Linked DNA regions of Homo sapiens: regions 2, 3 and 4 are each linked to region 1. Evidence: fine-mapped expression QTL. A gene starts in region 1. Each other region holds a variant in brackets. All regions are shown on one strand. Distances are from middle to middle. Region 1 holds the start of CLEC2B (C-type lectin domain family 2 member B). Region 2 overlaps LINC02470 (long intergenic non-protein coding RNA 2470). Region 3 overlaps CLEC2A (C-type lectin domain family 2 member A). Region 4 overlaps LINC00987 (long intergenic non-protein coding RNA 987).

Evidence for each region. PIP is the estimated chance that this variant, and not a neighbour inherited with it, causes the effect.
Region 2: its variant is the best candidate, but not a certain one, in a credible set for the expression of CLEC2B in whole blood (TOPMed, PIP 0.86).
Region 3: its variant is the best candidate, but not a certain one, in a credible set for the expression of CLEC2B in fibroblasts (GTEx, PIP 0.76).
Region 4: its variant is the best candidate, but not a certain one, in a credible set for the expression of CLEC2B in subcutaneous fat (GTEx, PIP 0.77).

Annotation. Positions count from the first base shown.
Region 1 is chr12:9,866,638-9,871,799 of GRCh38, forward strand. CLEC2B (C-type lectin domain family 2 member B) reads right to left here and starts at 2,717. Exons shown (of 5, transcript NM_005127.3): 1 at 2,568-2,717.
Region 2 is chr12:9,938,323-9,943,447 of GRCh38, forward strand. It overlaps LINC02470 (long intergenic non-protein coding RNA 2470), which reads right to left. Exons shown (of 5, transcript NR_104634.2): 1 at 4,808-5,125; 2 at 4,167-4,250; 3 at 1,587-1,771; 4 at 741-848. Among named protein-coding and RNA genes, the nearest start is that of LINC02470, 2.6 kb to the right of the region's middle. The variant G/T (reference allele first, on the strand shown) is at 2,686.
Region 3 is chr12:9,908,424-9,913,585 of GRCh38, forward strand. It overlaps CLEC2A (C-type lectin domain family 2 member A), which reads right to left. Exons shown (of 5, transcript NM_001130711.2): 5 at 4,804-5,162. The coding sequence ends at 5,143. Among named protein-coding and RNA genes, the nearest start is that of CLEC2A, 21 kb to the right of the region's middle. RefSeq lists an enhancer at 1,747-2,946. The variant A/G (reference allele first, on the strand shown) is at 2,995.
Region 4 is chr12:9,241,927-9,247,088 of GRCh38, forward strand. It overlaps LINC00987 (long intergenic non-protein coding RNA 987), which reads left to right. Exons shown (of 7, transcript NR_137434.2): 3 at 4,543-4,622. It also overlaps the pseudogene A2MP1. Among named protein-coding and RNA genes, the nearest start is that of LINC00987, 4.4 kb to the left of the region's middle. RefSeq lists silencers at 3,099-3,148, 3,159-3,208. The variant C/T (reference allele first, on the strand shown) is at 2,457.

The DNA.
Region 1 (5,162 bases):
AAGTGGAAGTATTTTTTGAGTCAATTTCATATCTGTTATTTGAAGGAGGTAGTCAGACCATTTTGATATTCTTTCTTCCAGAATGACTGTTGAAAAGAAAACCCTAAGCTGCTTAAATCAATGGCCTTTTCAATTAAAAAAAAATCTAGCTTATTGAAGTAATGTTTCTGAAAATTGTGAAGGGATTTTAAAAAGAGGAAATAACTTCGAGCTAACAGGTAGAGAGAAGGGCAATGCACATCCTGACAATATGAGAAATGACAATTTGCAGATACAGCGGAAAATAGGAGCCCTTTCCATTGCAAAGTTGGCAAGGTATTAGAGTATAAGGACTTGGTGGTGTATACAGAGTTGGTAGATTTTACGTACAGATGACCCCAGCTTCAAAAAAGATGATCGTACTTTAAATGTGGCAAAGAAACAGTGTGGCTTTTGTTATGAGTTCAGCACAAAATAGCAGAGCTAGACCCGAAGAGGTCATTTATATTGGAACATGGTCTTCTCAGGTGTAATCAGTGGAAACTGATGAATGGAGACCATTATAACACTTTGGTGTCTTATACAACCTGGGAAACTTCATATAACCTTGGAAGAAATCTCTCACTCTCAATACCACCAAATGACAGAAAGTAAGTAAACTGTCCTGTCCATTCAGTGGGATGGAGACTTGAAGTAACATTTAATTTTATTTAAATAACTAATGAATTCAACATTTATTGCATGTCTGAATATGTAGGTACAAATTTAAACCTATTATGTGTTCATTCTCTACTTAATCTATATCGTGAACCCTGAAATCTAGCTTTTTACACTCAGCATAAGTTGTTTTCAGTTGTTTTTAATTTCCCAGAATCTTTTCATTGTTACTGAATTCTCAATACTTATTTAGGAGGCTGTAATTATTTACATGAGTTATCAGAAAAATTAGTGGCATTGGTAGAATGTGGTTAGCATAGCTGCCTTTCAAACAAATTAAAAAATTGTGATCTCCCACGATGAAGCTGATATCGAAACATGAATTTCAAAGTTGTTGAGCCTTCTTAACGTTTGATGAGGCTATGCTTAAAAGGACACTTCCCCAGACAGTTCGAGAACAATGGATTTAATTAACAGTGTAACTAAAATAGTTCTATATTTAAATGTATAATCTAAACAGTTAAGGACTGCAATTGTTTTCCCCATAGAAAAGTTTCAGTGACTCAACTGTTTTCTGTTTGATTCTGCTCTCTAAGGAAAGATAAGAAAGATGCAGAGTGACCAATGCATTTAAAATCAAACAGAATATTATTTTTCTTGGCTAATAGCTATAGAAAAAAATCATAAAATACTGATAAGCAGAGCAAATAAAATATTTGTTAAAATGTATATAAAAACTGACTGAATTATATCACACTGCCCTAAATTACCGCTATTAAAACGATGTTCATAATTTCAGATATATATGTATCTATAATATATACAATATTATACTGAATATATTATTCAGTAACTTTTAAAATATATTCATATGTAATATGATATATAATATTGTATTATATAATGTATTTATATACAAATGTATAAATTTATACAATTGATTGAAAGTAGAAAATAACACTGGTTTTACTAGTGGCTGGAAGGCCTTCTTAAAACTTTTGATTAAAATGATATTTTATGCTACCATCAAATATTGATCTCATTCCCCGCAAACCTGTTTTATCTAACTTTAGGCAGAATTATAAAACCGGTTAAAATACGGGAGGAAGGATAAAGTGTGCATTCTATTGTACCACAGCAATAATTTTTTTGACCGTAGCATACGCTGGTAGGTTGACATTTAGTTAAACGGGAAATGCTTAAAGCTCATCACAGTCCCTAAATCTCTAAATCATAGATCGTTGTATTGAATGCATTTAGTTTCAGCCTTTTCTCTTTCAAATATTTTGACATAAATAAACCCTGTTGAAATCTCAAAGATGTAGCTTGGATCTTATATATTCCGAACTTGCTATTTAATAAATCCAATGTTACCAGGTTGTTTCATAGTGTATTTTTTAGAACATTTTCTTTCCTTATCCTTCTTAGGGTTGGTAAAGACATCTCCATGGATATCGGAGTACTAGCAATTCCTTAGTAAGAGTAGGAAAGGGATATATTCTTTCCGTTAAGTACTCCTAAAGCCCGGAGTATCTTTACACCATCCAATAAAGCAATCTTTAAAAATATTAGAACTATTGGCTAAATTTATCATATTATGTATGCATTCTGAGAACTGTATGAGTATCTGGATCATATCTATCATCTTCTCAAGTATTTGTTTTATAAAATACTTAGTAAAAATGAAACTAAATCTTGAGCAGTTTTAAGTCATGGTTAATCCTTCTCCATTGTAATTCAAATAATGTAAAGTAAGTCTGAATTTATTAGGACAAAACAGTCATATGCAAATCTCAATCTTGTTATAAGAAGGAATTTTCTAGTTTCACAAAAGAAACCACAAAATTTAATTCTTTTCTCGAAGGCTTTAACATTCTGCATCACAATTTCAATAAATAACGGTCATTCTAAACAAACAAAAATGTTCTTACCGTGCTTCTTTTAATCAGCGTTTTGATTTTCTGCTAGCAGCTTTGTGTCATGTCTTGCAGAAACTCTCTTCAAAGTTGTAACTTTATTTAACTTTAATATAAAAATGTTACTCTTGTTTTTACAGCACAGCTCCAAACTAGAGGTATACCACTTTTGAAGAGTAACTCAAAGTATAAATAGCATTTTGCAAACTGGAAGTAACCATGTGACTATCTATTAGTCATACTGTTGTTTATTACAATTTTCTTCTCGTCAAAAAAGAAAGCTTGCCAAGGAGGAAGGAAGTTTGTGATATAACAATTTAAAGCTGAAGAATAAACACATATTTTCTTACTTTCTCAACTGGGATTCTCATCTGAACCACAGAACACGAAATTGCTCAAGTGGCTGTTTTTCTGATTCATCCAGGAGTGGTACTTAACCACGTATCCTTCCAGAACTGTAGGAGAGGCTGATACTAATTAATTCAACAGCATTCTTTAGGACATTACTGCTTTCTTATCCTGTGTTAAGAAAGATCACCTTAAAAGCGATAGAATCAAAGAAAAAGCAATGGTTTAAACTTTGGCTACTGAAAGAAAAACAAAAACTATTATCTCTCTCTCAAAGACAAATGCGTGCAAAGTCACACGTGTGGGTGTGAGCACACACACAAACACACACAAAGACACACAGAGGGAAAAAAGAAAACGAAAGTAACAAAGTGCCCAGAACGTTATCATCAGCATACAAGATGACACCATTATGCTTTTGCTAAGTTACCAGGCCACAATTTTGTCTTCAAATCTGCTCTAATCAGTTTCCCAGTGATTTTGTATTACCCCTCAACAAATATATTAGGGAGGAAACTGAGGAGAAGAAGCCAGTGTCCCGCAAGCGGCTTCGGGATTAACACTGCATTTGTTCTGAGAGAGAAACTTGAAGAGGAAAAGCAAATGAGAATAGAGAAGAAACTGTAGTACAAAGGAATTAAAACAAAGAAAATATGAAGAGAATAAGAAATACAGGTTTAATCATTTCTGGGCAGAAGGAAAGGACAGATAACAAAATTGCTCTTTTCATTTTTGGACAGAAAAAAAAGACAGAAAATTCATGAGGAAATGAATATATTCTACCTTTGTTGTTAACAAAAGATTGTATCCAAAGAACTATTAGAAAAGCATGTATAGAAAAATATAGAGATTACTCAAGTATGGTTGAGTGAAATTTAGTTTTGTTCCAAAAAGGAAAACAGTCAAGATACAACAGTTAAGATATAAAACATTTTCAACACAGGGAAATGTTCCCCGCTGTTGCTTTGCAGTTCATCCTCACCCCTGAAGCCAGGCAGCAGCCAACTTACTGTCAATAAACATGAGCTTTGCTGGTTTTAGAAATTCCTGTTAAGCAGAATGATACAGTTGGCAATTCTTGTAAGTCTGATGTCTTTCACTGAGCATAATGTTTTTGAGTTTTATCCATGTTTTTGCACAGATCAGCAGTTAATTTCTTTTTATTACTGAGTAGTATTTCATTGTACAGACATAAAATATTTTTATCTATTTTATAATAAAATGTATCCATTATGACATTGAGCTTTTTCCACTTCTTGGATATCATAAGGTCAAAATAAACATTTATGCAAAAGTTTTTCTATTGACACGTTTTTTAATCTTTTGAAGAAATACCTGGATGTGAAACTGCTAGGTTACATAGAAAATGTATGTTTTATTTTATAAATGTATTTTTTTCCAAAAAGTTGTGCCATTCCCAACATGAATATTGGATGGTTCTATTTGCTCCACATAAATAGCAATATTAGATATGCCCAATCTTTTTCAATTTAACCATTCTAGTAGGCGTGTAGTAGAATCTAAATGTGATTTTAATTTGTACATCTCTGATGTTATATTGAGCATTTACTCACGTGCGTATTGGTAACTCATATATCTTTTTTCAATGACCTATTTAAATATTTTTCCCATTTTTATGGATTTATTTGTTTCCTTATGGTGATTTTTAAGATTTTATATATATGTAAATATATATGTAGAGAAACATACACATAAAAATGTGTATATAAATAAGTAAAATGGGTTGCAACATAATATAGAAAAATTCCATTTTTAGATAAATGTATTAAAAATACTTTCCATCATTTGTATAGTGACTTTTCACAATTTTTTTTCTCAAAAATTTTAAAAATCTAGAAGCTTCTAAACGTTGGACTCTCTAATCCTAACAAAGTTACATGTTCTCCCTTGTCGAGGTCATGCCTTTTTCCTTAAAGAAAATATTGTGCCCTTCACACCCTCCTTACAGGAATCCCTCCCTTACTTGCCTTTCTTAGTTATTGGTCATAAGGCCAATAACTAAGGTTATGTGCTAAGCTTATAAGGGAGAGAAAGGGCTATACTCAGAATGAATTTGGACCTAACCAATATATAATAACAACAGCTTGGAGTGTACACAATGGGATTGGATTCTGAGGGTGCTAGATCATGAGAGAAACATAAAGCTGGATAAGGGAGATTTTATCAACATTAGGGCATTCAGTTGCAATACAGAATTTAATAACTTGGAAAAATACTGTGAACAGTGCTGACATACTGCTG
Region 2 (5,125 bases), 72 kb after region 1:
GTTCCGCTACTAACTTTATTATATTATATACAACATGTAATATCTGGCATGGAGTGCTACAGAACCAGTATCTATTACAAAGTGGGCAGTCAATAAATGGTAGCTAGTGGTCACCTTTAGTTCACCAAAGAATACTGAGAACTCAATATCCTTTATATGACCTTCTCCACCCTGACGTTGGAGAAATTTGTAAGTGTTTTAAGAACAAAATAGATTCTAAGTGTATGATGAGTTTTTTCAAGCTATGGAATATAAAGAAGTTCTTGAATTTTAAACAAAGGTAAACTGAGGCAAACACGTTCTCTTCTTAACTTACTCTTGTGCATGTCAGGCCACTGGTGGGTGCGGAAAGTGTAGGCTTCAGTACACTCTCTAATGCTCTCCCATCAATGAAAGGCCAAAGGAACAACAACAAAAAAAACAAAAACAAAAGGCAAGGTCCCAGGTCCAAAGAGGAAAGGATCAAACTGCTTAGACTTGCATCCAGTTCAGGATAAAGGGAACACTTGTGACTCACATGTGGTATATACCAATTCCATATATATACATAAATATTGATATGTGATGCCAAACCCTCACTAAAAACCGTAACTTTGTCTAAATATTCTCTTTGGCATCTATTTTTTGAGGGTCTTTTGGGGGGATGATGTGGAGGAATCTATGGAGGAAGCCAGTTATAGACTCAGAATCTTTACCACGCTTTACACATTTAATAGTAAATACATGTTAGTAAGGCTTACCAATTGCTGAATGTAGCTCCATCTGCCCACATCCACGTTTTGTTTGCATTGTGCTTGCTCAGTTCAAACCAATATAAAGACGGCCCCAGATAATGCATCAAAGATTCCCTTTACAAAATACAGAGTGCTGTCATAGATTTCTTCTAGTTTTCTCATTCTCACTCCCTCCAGTGCCCTTTAAGTCTATTATTATCTTGCACAGTTACTGCAAAGGCCGTATAACATGATTCCCTCCGTTTACATTTGAGACTCAGTAGCCAACCTCATCACAGCAAAGATTATGATTCTTTTAAAACTTAAGTCAGATCCTATTACATTTTCCCTCATAATTTGGCAGTATCTCCCTATTTTGCTTGGAGCAAAAACTAAACTCTTTACAATAGCCTGCAAGACCCTAATGATCCGCATTCTTCACTCAATCCCTCATTTTAGATAGATTGACTGGCTGCTTCTTTTCTGTTCCTTGAATATTCCAGACATTCACTGGCCTTAAGACACACGCTCCAGCCATTTTCCTTTCCTGGAAAGTTCACTTCTAGATAGTCCCTTACCTGCTTCACATCCTTCCTAAAATGTCACCATCTTATTGGGATATAACCTTACCTGCAGTAAACCCACTCCCTTAATTTTCATTTTTTTGCATAAAACTTTCCAACTTCTAACACAATATATAAATTACATATTTAATAAGATAATTTTTCATTGCTTATCTCTTCCCCTAGCATGTAAACTCCACAAGGGCAAAGATCTTTGATTCTTTGGTTTGCTAATGTATTACACCCTAGGAGTGTGCCTGTCTTTTAGTAGCTATTAAATGAGTTTAATATTGCAAAGAAGAAATCTAACCATTTCATTCTGAGAGTTGAGCCTGGCCAGAGATCCATAACTTCTGCAGTTTTCTCAGCCATTGATCCACGTTGTTTCATGTTCAGATTGAAAGAAGCAATTATTATTGATTCAGTTCCAGCCTTGTGGACACATAGTCAAATTTTCTAGGCATGTCTTGTTTCTAAGGTGCCTTGGAATTCCAACTGAAATTAACAGGTAATAGAGAAAAAGAATAAAGAAAGTATCAAAGAAAGAAAGAGTGAGCTTCAGAGTAAAATATTATTATATAGCTCAGACTAATAAAATGTGTTTTACTTACATATTCAATTTGAATGACTTAACTTTAAACATCAATTCAAAAAAATTGAATATCGAGAAGAGAACATGAAAGGAATAAGCACTGGAGAATGAGAGCTATGAAAAATTTAAAAACTCAATAACAAACTTCCAGAAATTCAGTATCTTCCAGCCATTTTCCCTCCTAATTTTTAGACTACATGAATTTTCTTTATTCATCTATTTCTTTCCTAAAATTTACTATGCTCTCTAGAACAAGTTGCAGTGTAAATAAACAAATTTTTCTATATTCATAACTTCAGTGAGCTGGTTCCTATCATCAACTTAACTGAGACTATATTGTCTTTCAAAGACAGCATTTCTCTAGAAGGTGGCGCTGTTTCCTTGTCCGTTATGAAACAAGAAACACAGAAAAAAGAATGCTAAAATTTCCCTTTTTACTCTCCACTTTTACTCCTTAAGTTACTGCACTAGATAAAGGAAGTTCCTTGTTAAGGTATAATCCTGAAAGAAACAAGCTCTGAGAGCACCTCCTATCCACAACTAAAATAAATGACTGGTTCATCTTCAAATCTGTGAGTGGGAAAATCCTCAATGGGAAGGATCAACTGGCAATATGGTTCTATATAGTTGAGACCTGAGAGTGAAGTGAAAAAATCAAGTTATCAAAGTTATTTGAATGTGTCATGTTCAAAATTATTTTAAAATGTCAAATTCAAATCAATAACCAATATAAAAACCAAATACTTAATTCAAAACTTGGGTCACCAGAAAGGCAGTTTTCTCATTCATTTACTAATTAATTCATTCTTTCATTTAC[G/T]CAGTCAACAACTACCGATTGAGCACCTGCTACACGCCAGACATTTTTGTAACTCTATGAATAGCCTACATAACATACAGAAATACCTACTCTTATGGGACTTATGCGTCTGAAATTATATAGTTTGTCGTAAAATAGATCAGAGTGAAGGAGAATCAGGGAATCACGGTTGTTGGTAAAATGAGTAGAAAGCAAACCACAAGAATATGGCGTCATGTAAGTCAAATGAAATTTTTTTTTTTTTTTAGAAAAAGGGAGTGCCAAAAGCTGCAAATAGGTTATATAATAAGGTGAGGAGGGAGAATGGACCAGTCGATTTAGCAATATGGAAGTTATTGGTGAACTTGAAAGACAAGTTTGGTGGAAAAAGCAGAGTGGAAGCTTGATCCAAGTGGATTTAACAGAAAAAGGAAAGATAAAAAATTATTTTGAAAAGCCGTTTTAAAGAGGTTGCTGTACCAAGGAGAAAAACAATAAATTGGTTGCTAAAAGATAAGTGGGGTCTAATAAATTCTGTTGTTTTTGTTGTTTATTTTTTCAAGGTTGATATAGATACCAGTATGTCATATTTGCTGATGGAGATGTTTCAGTTGAGGATGAAAAAAGGATAATGTAGGAGAGTGGAGAATTACTAGGGTGATATTACTGATCCAGTGAAAGAATATAGGATCTATTGTAGAACATGAATACTGCATCTACAGTTCCAGGAGTCTAGGCAGAGTGTAGGGGCAGAGATGGAGTAAGTAAGCTGGTGTGGTGATGGGAGCATTTGGAAGTTTCCTACAAATTGTTAAAATTAGAACAAGTTGGAAGCAAGGGTATAGACATGAGAATGAGCATGAGGAGAATGGAGATGAAGGACAAGGTATAAATTGCTAATGAATGGCAGTGAAAGAGTTAATGCACTAGGGAACTATAATACAATTGCCAGTCCCTCACCCTACTTCTTTGTAACTCCATCATAATTATACCTGGTGTGATTCTCTGACATGTGTGTTCTAAGATGATCTTTGATAAACGCCTACTTGAGTTTAAGATTCAGCACAAATATTTCTCCCTTCATTAAAGCCTTGACTACAAGCAGCTAACTTATAATCTCCTCTCCTGCTTCAAATTCAACATAGTTCTATTTAGTAATTATTTCTTTTGTGTTACAGTTGTTTGCTTACATGCTTCCATATTCAGTTAAAGATAAACTACTTTCAGGCAAGAAATACCATTTTTTTTCATTGTTATATCATCAGCAGGCAGCACTGTGCCTAAAGCTTGATACATATTTATTGAAAGACTGATTATTCTAGAAGGTGAAGCAGGTGACTAAGTTTGAAGAGCAATTAGATGCACTGTCTTGGAAAATGCTTTTATCTCTAAATTGTTCTATATTAAGGAAGGAAAGACTAGTTATTGGTATCCAACTGAATCAATAATACAATAATTTTAACAATTTAATTTAATAATTTTAGCAGAAATTGTTTACTTACATTTTCTGGGAAATCTTAAAATCCCCCAAAGAAGAAAAGCAATGCCTCCACATATAAAAATTGAGATGATCATTATTTTCCTTTCTATTATACCAAAGAGAAACAGATGTCATTGTTTATGTTCCAGAGAGAAAAAAAGCAAGCAAACCAACAAAAAACCCATCATGTTTATCTCTTTTCTCTATCTTCCGCGTGTTCTACTGTTCACAATTCAGCAATTAATGTATTAGAAAAATAAGAAAGGGAACTAAGACCTAACGTTTGAACATCAGGAGCCTCGAAGGTGCTTTGGCTCCACTTTCCTGTGCTATTTGGCAGAACTGTGTTACTAATTCTTCTGCCCTGCTTCCAGAACAGAAAACCAACAGTTTCCTCGCAGCGTCTTTTAATAAAATACTGCCTTTTCCAAGGGAAAATTCCAAGTATTTTTAATGAAATACTGTCTTTTCCAATATGATGGAGGAGGCTGGAATCGCCAATTATCATTATTATTGAAGTCTTTGTTTTATTAATGAAAACTGCTTTTACTTAAGATCTATATTATGGTCGCTATCCCCTACCCTGCCCTTCCCTCCCAATGCTAAAAGGGTGCAAGCTAGGATCAAGAAAAGATGCTAGAATAATCACACAACCTCACCCACCTGGCGTGTTGGTCTGCTGCTCCACAACCTCCGTCCCATCCTTACTCTCCATCCCTTCTCCCTCCATCTCCAACCCTCACGAGGAAGGCTCATCCTTCTGTGTGTGATCACAGAGGCTGGAATAATCCTGCGGGTGAATTGCAAATTGCTAAGTATATTTGGTGAGTGCAAACCGCAGGAAACTGACGACCCGGTTTTTCTGAGGGGTGGTGCGGCAGCAAGACAGTAGGAGAAACAGCACAGCAACCTAGCATCCTCCACTCAGCCGCGCAGGTGGACTTGGGCCAGATGGCCCCCAGGGGCGTGTCATGTGCCTTC
Region 3 (5,162 bases), 42 kb after region 1:
AGATTTTAGCTTTAAATCCTTCTCCCTTTACCCCTGAGACAGAAAGTTCTGAGGAGCAGGTGATATCAGATGGAGGGAAACAGAGGAGCGGGCTGCTCCTGAATCTACTAAAAACGTTATGAGTTCATATTTGGGTCCCACCTCTAAGTTTATCAAGGGCTCTTGGTGGGACTTGAGATAAAAGAGACAGAGCCCCTGGCCCCCCCTATTCTTCCTCAAAAGTCATGAGTGGAAGGACTTCTTTTTATTTTTCCCATGCGGGACATTCCCTCTTAAAGAGACCTGTTCTTCCACATTTAAAACATCTATTCTGTCTTTTCTCTGTTTTGGGATTCTTTGGCTTGGCCCCCCTGTGTTCTTTATAGGGTCTGGCAAATGAGGTCCCGGATCCTTTAATAGGGGGCTTGAAGCCTCTAAATGGAGGTTTGGGTCATTTATAGATTTTGGCCCCCTGGGGGCTTTGTTTAGAAATGTATTGATTTGGAGCCCCCTGTTGATAGGTGGATAGCATGAATTTTGCTTTCACTTTTTGCTTTTCTTCGTATCTTCTCACATATACCTTTTGAGTTTCTCTGAGAAATTCACTTAGAGGATGATCTTTCCAATCCTCTATCTTTTGTAATTTCTTGGAAATGTCTGCCCAACTATTAGTAAAAAAATGAAGCTTTAACATTCCTTGTCCTAGGGGATCTTATAAATCTAGGCCTGCTTATTTTTTCATTTGCTCCTTTAATCTGTTTAAGAATTCTATAGGCTCTTCATCCTTCCCCTGTTGTGTGCTGAGTGTCTGAGACAGAGTCTGAGTCCAGGGTACTTATTCTTGAGTTCTTTTTATCATCATCTCCCTCAGGTCTTGCAGGTTTTTCCAGTGAGCTATGTTGTTATTGTCCCACCAGGGATCTTGGGCACGGAATTCCTCGTCTGCTGTAGAAACGTTTTAACTGGGGGGTGTTCATGTTCTCAAACTACCATAGTGGCCCTAAGGATCATGCCCCTTTCTCTCCCTGAAAACAGGATGCCCAGGATGGGCATTAACTCAGCCCAAGTATATAACTGGGGTCCTAGAAATTGATCACCGACCTGATCTGCCACTCGATGAGGGTCATCTCACAGCGGCTTGAGTTCTTTTTTAAAGCCTGGAACTTCTGAACTGGTTAGAGGAGCATTTATGAAGCTGATGGCACCCCCTCCCTGCAGCACCTCTTTTAAGGGGCAGAGAGTCAGAGCTGATTCCCCAGGGATAGGGGATAAAGGGAAGTTTTGAATATCCTTTTTACATTGCTCTACCTCACGTTGGAGTCCTTTTAGAGAAGAGTATTTAGGCTGGTAAGGAGCTGGCTCATGGGATGATAATTCCCAAGAATTGGGGTTGTAAGGGGTGGGGAACAATGTGAGCAGGGGAGGGATCTGGAGTGGGGTCTGAGGTGGCAACAGCTGCTTGAGGGGGAGAATTGGGGGTATTGAGTGGAGGAAGATGGTCTAGGGGATCCCATGTGTTGATGGGCTGTCTAGGAATAGGGACCTTTTCTCTTTCAGAGCAGTAAGATTCTAGCTTGCTCCCTCTGATTTTTAGAGGGTAAAGGAGGACAGGTCCTTGCCTCCAACAAAGAGCATACTCTATATCCTCCAGAGACACAGGGCTTTTGTCATTAATATGTTCCATTAAAAGTTAACAAATCCATTCTTCACTGGACCCAAATTTTGGCCAGAAAATTGAGGGTTTGAGGATTGGCTCTCGAGCCCAAATGAAGCAAAAATACTTTATCATTTGCTGCTTTCTTTTATGTTTGGTTCTTTTATTATCTTACCAATATTTTAGCATAATCCCTAGGCAACTATCAGGAGGAATTTCATCATCTGCCTGGCTCTTTATTTTCCCTGTCTTATTTGAAACATTTCCCATCTTGGAGGTTTGGTATGGTGTCTAACTGGAGCAGGCTTTTTCCCTGGAGTTTTCAACCTCCCCTCTATTGGAGGTTTCTAATGCTTCTGGGTGTGTGGGGGCTCAACCTCTCCTACTAGAGATTTCTTGCCCTCCCTTCTTCTAGAAGCTGTGTGTGAGTCTCAATCTCTCCTACTAGAGATTTCTTGCCTTTCTTCTCCTAGAAGCTTAGCTCCCCTTTTACTGGATGTTTCTTGCAATCTTCTCCTTTTGTTTTGTACTCACTCAGCACAGTAGTAGTGCTCGTTACCATTCACACACTTTCAACCTCCAAGATATCCCGACCTCCAAGGAAATACTTTATTGCCCCTGCAACATTTCTTACCTTGTCCTGTGCATAGAGTTACCTGGTTGCCGTGGTAGGTAGGTAAGAATCCTTTCCACCCACGTTGCTGAGAGTGTGGGTTTATTCGTCATGCTGGGGGAGGTCCTGATCCCTTTCCCTCTGAGGCCAACGCAACGAGAGAGTGTGACGCATCTCCTCATGGGAGATGATCTGGGACCCTTCCCCAGAGGAGAAAGGGTATCCCTGATGAGCCCCTATGATTGTTAGAAACAAGTGCTCTGTGCTGCAAAGAAGAACCAGCACTGAGACAAAGGATTTCTCAGCAAGGCAATTTACTTCTGCAGAAGGGTGCTGCCTGCATCAGCCATGCAGCACACTGAACAAAGGAGGGTAAGAGTTTTTATTCCTAACACGGTCCCTGCTTCTGTGTAGTTCCCCATTGGCTGGAGTCAAGACCACACAACCTAAACTAGTCCTGATTGGCTAAACACTTAAACCTTCTATGTAAGGTAGATGAGTGATGGGGGAGAAGGAGGGAAGAGAAGAGGGCCACCTGTGGAGAATAAGGCTAAACTTTTTCCAAATAAGGAAAGGAATGTAGAGTGAGGCTGACATGTCTAGGCATGTCAGGGCACAGCAAGAGCAGGAGGGCTGTTTGCAGGCTAGAAAGAAGAGAGTACAAGAAGGTTGAGCCTCTGAGCAAAGAACAAGGACATTGCACAATTAAGCCCTTTGAAGAGGAATTTATCCTCTCTGGCATGAATTA[A/G]TGGTGTGATTAGTTCCATATGTTGCCAGACCTTACCAGTTGTGAAGCCAGCAAGTCCAAGAATTCTCAAAACCCCAAAAGTAGTTTATAACCTTAAAACATTTAGCAAACCTTGACTCCAACCTGCATAATTTAGCTCACCTATTTACATTTTAGTGACACCTGCATTTTACCAATAATTTTTAAGGCTGTTTTTATTTCTCAAAGATTAAAGTCATGTGAACTGAAAGTACCACAGCTTTTATCTTCCCCTTAAAAAAATACTTGATCCAAGCACTTTTCTTTAGGACAAATTAATTAGAGCTCTTTTTGTAAACATCACACACAGTATACACACAGACAGGCAGAAGAAAACCCAGTCCCTGGGCCCATTTTTTTTAAGAGACAGGGCTAGGAGAACATGTAGATATCTAACCTGATAGGGTTAGATATCTCATCACCTAAGGCAGGGCTGCTAAACAAAGCCTTGTCATGCAGTTACTGGCCATGCCCCCAGGATGTAAAGCAAGATGGAGGCCTGCAACACAAACCATACAGACATGCAAAGCACACCAGATTGGCTATAGCCCAAGACTAGCCCCACAAATCCTTTTTCACAACAAAAACTTTAGAGAGTACAAACAGTGATAGTTGGGGGGCCTGGCCTTGTAAAAATGTCCTCTAAAAGGAAAAAAAAATGTAAAGGTTAACTGCTGATGGGGTAGAAGAAGGGGATAAAAAAATCAGTTTAAAATGCCTGGGGAAGAACCTCTTATTCTTATGAAAGTGGATGCTCCACCAGGGGAAAAGCTTAATTTTCATCCAATAAAGCTGAAGCCCTTGGGTGGGGAAGGGGAAGGCTGTGGTGGCTTATGGCTGGGAGCCAGCCAGCTGGCTCTGCAGGACCCTTAGGCCGTGAGTCCCAACCCCTGCATGGAGGGGAGGCAGAGTGAGGAGACCCCACTTGCCTGTCCCTCTTGAAAAAGGAAGAAAATGGCCTTTCCCCTGACCCTTAGAGTGACAGGGTTTGGGGGCATGTTTCCCCCACCCTCAGAAGCTGGAGGATGAAAATAGGAGCGACAGTGAGAGGTTTCGAGTCCTCATTTCATTCGCCTCTTCTCGAGCACCCATGTTATGTGCCAAAATTGTTGCAGGACTTTTCCTTAGTTCAGCTAAAGATGGTGTTCTTGTCCTGCCCATGTCCATAAAAATCTATGCTCACAGATGTTTTAGAGGATGAGTAAATCTGGGTTTTATTGGGTGAAAAGCAAAAAAAAAAAAAAGGAAAACAGGATGCTCTGCTAGAGCACTTCCTGCTGACCATTCTAATCTCAGGTTCCACACAGGAAGAGGAGGGACCGTGCTCGCTCTTCTTTGCTGCAAAAGTTGTGAACTTCCCAAGGCTCCACCTCAGTGGGCAGACTGGTGGGAGTTTCTCCCGGGCACTGCTTCCCACCTGCCTGTCTCATTTTCACACTGTAATCAAGATACTTTTTTTTCTCTAGTTTTTCTTACTATCTATCCATTTATACTCACATTCCTACTTGTTCTGAAAGATCACAGTTACCCAGGCAGGTAATTAAAACTGCACTAATGCAACAAGGCAGCTTTGATACAACCTTTGAATGCCCTATAGAATTTAAATTTTATGAAGCATCCAAATATGTGCCCCAAATTAATTTTCTTTCCTTTTTCTTACTTGGGAGATTGCATTTTTTTTTTCACGAACCTACTATTTGGTCACTTTGATATTTATTACTCTAGTCTATATAGTATGTTATAATTTTTATGTATAACTCATAATTTATCAGTGTTTATTATTTGTAGATGCTATGTTCTGAGTATTTGGGTCCTCCCAAAACTCATAAATTGAAAGCTAATCACCAGTGTGATGGTATTAGGGGATGGAGCCATCCATCAGGAGGTGATTAGTTCATGAGGATGGAGCCATAGTAAATGTGATTGTGCCCTTATAAAAGGCTCCAGAGAACGGCCTTGTCTCTTTAACCATGGCAGGGCACAGCAAGAAGTTTCCATCTATAAACTAGAAAATGGGCCCTCACCAGAGGTTCCGTATTCTGTAACAGAATAAGTGAGAAAGCCACTTTTGCATAATTAGCTCTTCTTTCAATCTTGAAGTGTGATAATCATTTTCAAGTTTTTTCTGCTCTATAAAAAATATTTAGGTT
Region 4 (5,162 bases), 620 kb before region 1:
GTGAAGGCTTCTCCTCGCACCACAGAATAAGGAAGGGTGAGTTCTAGGAAGAAAGGCTGGAAGGCTTGAAGAGACACGATAGGAGAGAGGCCAAACCCTGTGGTTCCAGACAAGCAGAATGCGCTGGCCTTCCACTCTGTGATGGTTTCAGGGACCTGGTCACCAGCTCACTTATACCTAATGAGCTAGTGAAGGAGCAGAGAAGAGGAGTATAAGCAAATCTTTTTTTTTTTTTTTTAACACAAAGCATGGCTGATCCTAGAACATGATAACTCAGTAACCTAGTGTGGTAAATGCTAAACTTGATCTAAGGGTTGGTGCTCCTGGTGAGGTTTAAAGTTTTTTTTCTCCCTACCTCCCTTACTCCCTCCTTCCCTCCCTCCCTTTATTTCTTCCTCTTTTCTTTCATTCTTTCCTTCCTTTTGTTCTTTCTTTCAATCTCCCTCCCCTCCCCTTCCCTTTCCTTTATTTAAGAGGGCTGGTAGCATCCTACTTTCTATTATCTTAGTTATCAATAGACTAAATTAGAAAAAAAATTAGCATTGTTTAATTATGAGATAAATGAACTATAAACCTAAATATTTACCAGAAAAGAGCAGAGCAGAACTAAAAGGATCAGGAATCCAGGATAACATCAGTCATACAGCAGGATTCAAACCCTCTCCTAAACTAAATTCCAGGCAACACACAACTTACTCAACTACCACCAAATCCCAGATCCAGGTCTCAGGGAAGTACTTCCGGACTATCTCTTTCACTTGCAATATCTGAGGTTCTTCTTCGATCATTGGGTACATTATTTCTACGGCTCCTGGGGGTACACCTCGCAGACCTGGTCCTGGAAGACAACACACAGGCCTCAGTGTGAACCTCATTTTTATCATCAATTTCTTATTGCTGCCTTATTTCTCAAATGGAATAAGGTCATACGCTCAGGGAATGTTTATTATTGGAACAATTTAACCTACCAGCTTGTTATTTTGTTCACTTTCCTATAAAAAGGCTAATCCTATTTTTTCTTCAAATAGAATCTAGAGCTAAATATATTTTTCTTTATAAATAAAAACAAATGACCTGTACATGTACCTCCTGAATCTAAAATAAAAGTTGATTAAAAAAAAACAAATGTAGCTCTCTCTAAGATGATTACTCAACTGGTGAAGGGAAGGATAAAGAGTAATTTAATACACCAAATATTGCTTTTACACTGAAATTGTGTTCACATGTCTTCTGTTTGCAGTGAGAATCAAACGAGGAATGGATATTAGCTAAGCAAGATGATTTCGGGAATGATTTTTTGTTTGTTTGTTTGTTTCGACATTGAATTAATATGGAGACATAAACAATAAGCAACAGGATTCAGTAAAGTATGTAGTATAGACAATAGGGAGTCAGGAATGAAAAGACAATCAACTTTAGTTAGGCCGGAAAAGACTTTACCAAAGCGGAACCTAAGATGATCATTCATGGATGGGAGGTGGAGGAGAATGGGGAGTTATTCCCAGGAAAGGACTGTGCAAATATATATACAAAGGTGGAAGGGTGCTTCACAGGGATAGTAAAAATTTACCCTCTAGAGTAGAATGGCTATTTTCAGGGTGTGTTTCCCATAATTAGGTAAACAGAAGGTATAATATATAATAAAACATAAGGCTAGGACAAATGAATAAGGTCTGTTAAGTGGGAGTTAGTTAGCTTGATAAAAAAGAAATTGATATTCCAGAAATCAGAAGATATACATATATATAAGATATATATAATCTTTACATATTGTTAACATTATCTTAAATATCTTTATTATAATATTATTCTATAATATATCTTCTGATCTCTGGGGCATCACTTTTTAAAGATAATTATATACGTGTGTAATTATAAATACATATATGATATATATATAAGATAATAGAGTTAGATGTGCTCTTTCAAAACCTTAAATGCAATAATCTTATGAATTCTGGAAGTATTGACTATGTTTGAGAAACAAGTGACATGAGAAAAGCAGTGTTTAAGAGTATGCAGGACAGATAGAGGTAAAGAAAAGCTGGAGGCAAGGAAGTTAAATTAGAATGGTTTTTCAGTAATCTAGTTATGAAATAATGACAGACAGATTAAAGTGCTGTAACTGAAAATGAGAAGGAAGAAAAGGATAAGCAACAAATACCAAAAGAAAAATTTGCATAGAATATTACAGAACATTTGGGGTCAAAGTGTAACGATGTACTCTGAGTTTTCAGGTTTTCTGAATCATACCTTTGTTTCCATTGATCTGTTTTCTCTTAGGTTGGAAAGAAAATACACACTTGGTGAAATGAAAGTCAATTAATCATGCTTTTCAGTTTCTTTTTTTTAAACAAACATGCCATTAAAGGAATCATGATTTTTTTTTTTTCATTTTATGGTCACAATACCTCAGTGAGTTTGGTGTTGTCATTCTGACTTCAGATTTAAAGAAA[C/T]TGAGCCTCTAAAAGGTTAAGTGAGTCTGCAAATTTCCAAAGTCACATAGTCATAGCAGATAGGAGTGTGATGAAAAATTGTCCCTTTGTTCTTAAAACAGTGTTCTTTTTTCACTATACAGGATTTTTTTTTTTTTTCTGGTGAGGAAATATCCTTAATGACTCCTTTGTTTTCAATTAGAACATTACTCCTTGCCTTCCCAGGCAGTGAATCTGCTGTATTAAAATGTGTTTATTCTTTTTTTTTTTTTAACACTTTTTACTGCCATCCTCATTTTTTATTAAAAAGTAAATTTGGTAGACATTCAAGCATGCAGAGAAAAATTTCTCTAGGCCTGATGGCAGTAGAAAAGAATTTTGAGTTAGGCCTTTTGCAACATTTCCTGATTTCCAGGTATACTTGAAACACACAAAGAGACTATGCAGAGGTAGCGTATCTGCCAAAAGTTGCATTACTCTCTTTTGCTCAATATTACATAAATCCCTTCTCTTTCCATAAGAAGATATGACAGAGACAGTTAATATCCACATGAGCCTTCCCATTTCTCAGCCTCCTTTGCATTCAGGGCAGGAACATGGGCGGAAGTGATGTATACCATTCCCACTCCTGGCTTTAAGAGTCAAGTGCAACCTCCTTCCCCATGGGTATGACCTTGAAAGCCACGTTGGCGATGGCAGAGTCACCAGAGGAAAGCAGACTGGTTCTCTCTGACTCACTGTTTGGCACGGGGCTGTTCTGGAGAGTGTCTGAACTCACAAGTAGATTTTGTGTGAGCAAAAACCAAACCGTTAGGTGCTTACCCGCTGAGATGTGGGAGTTTGTTTGTTACTGCCATTGAATCTAATTCTGACTAATTCAGGTATTGACTCCATCATGGACAAGGAAGATCTAAAATGGCAAGACTATTAAAAGCAAAAACAAAAAGTTAGTTGATTTTGATGTCAAAGAGAAAATAATAATTGCTTAAAAATCCTCTATTTGAGGAAAAAGTATTATTTGGGGCTAACTTACCAAGAAGTTGCTGCAGTCTCAAGATCCAATACTTAGAAAAACAGGTTTTCATCTTAAACCAACCCAATAAAGCACCATTTTTCTTCTATTCTGTCAGACAAATAAATCACACCTTTACCTCCTATTATGCTGATACGCAATCCTCGTGGTAGACACAAAGTTGGCTTATGGATTTTTGAGTTGGTAAAAATATCTAATCCTATGGACTGAAAAAAATTGTTAAAGCATAGCGGCAATCCAATCTTGAGACTGTAAGTAGTTTCTTGAATTTGTATTGTACTTTCACTATTATGTTACATATAGTTCATACGCTCATCATGAAAATTACACAAAATGAGGAGAGCTATTTATAAATATGAAAACAGAGTCATAGACGGTCAAGTTCATTAAGCTATTGAGTGAATAGGAGTGGGAATTCAAACCCGTTTCTGATTCTTATTTCTAAATATTGTCTGGTATAATCTAATGCTCTTTAACTCTTTTTTGCATCCATAAAACTGAATATTTTAGACTTAGATGTTTTCTTCTCTTCTTTTTCCCCATGAAACAAATATCTATGTCTGTGTATGCATATAAACAGCTCTCCTTATGGCTTTATTACAAAGAGCATTTTTTTGCTTGTTTCTTGTCATTTTAAATTGAAGGTTTGCATATCGGAGGTTGTTCTTTACAATCTTAGTAAACTCTGTTTTGTTTATGTTTTACCAGAAGATATGGCTTTTCCTGAATATCTATGCTTAACTCGTTCCTGTGGTCCTTTCCTCTTTTTTCTCAGTTTCTTCTAGTCGTCTCAAATGTCTGCATCTAAAACCCACATTCAGATGCCCACGGTTGTCTACAGTCCACCTGTTTCCAGCTTCCCCCTTCTTCAATGTTAGTCACAGATAAATATTATTTGCTATTTTATCTCAGAGTATTTGGGAAACTGTGGGACTCTTGAACACAGTTGTCAGTGAGGGTTGTGTACGCAACAGAAAGAAATAAACCAGAAATAAATATTTAGAGATTAAACAGCTGGTTAATAAACCAAGAAGTATTCTTTTCATCCTTCTACCATCTGATTTGTGATTCCAGAACGTCCAGAAGAGAGAGATTTAAATTGCTTTCAGCTAAGCTGTAGACCTCTAGCAGATGAACGACATATTTTCCTGAAGGTATGATGAAAGTTTTTAGTGCTTTTTGATAGTGATAAGATTTAATTTCACGACCTGGATAATTCTGCTCAGTTATAGTTAATACTAAAGAATTACATTTTTAAGACATCTTAACATTTCTAATACAAGTTTTGTTAATCTTTTCTTAATGAAAGACAACTTCAAATTTTCCTGGAATTTTACTGCCCTGTGAGGACTGAAGTTTTGCATTTTATGTATTCAATCCTGTATTCATTCAACAAGTGTTTTCTTTGTTTGTTTGTTTGTTTTGTTTTGTTTTGTTGTTTTTCTTTGAGACAGAGTCTCGCTCTGTCACCCAGGCTGGAGAGCAGTGGCGCAATCTCGGCTCACTGCAAGCTCCGCCTCCGGGGTTCACGCCATTCTCCTGCCTCAGCCTCCCGAGTAGCTGGGACTACAGGCGCCCGCCACCACACCCGGCTAATTTTTTTTATATTTTTAGTAGAGACGGGGTTTCACCTTGTTAGCCAGAATGGTCTCGATCTCCTGATCTCGTGATCCACCCACCTCAGCCTCCCAAAG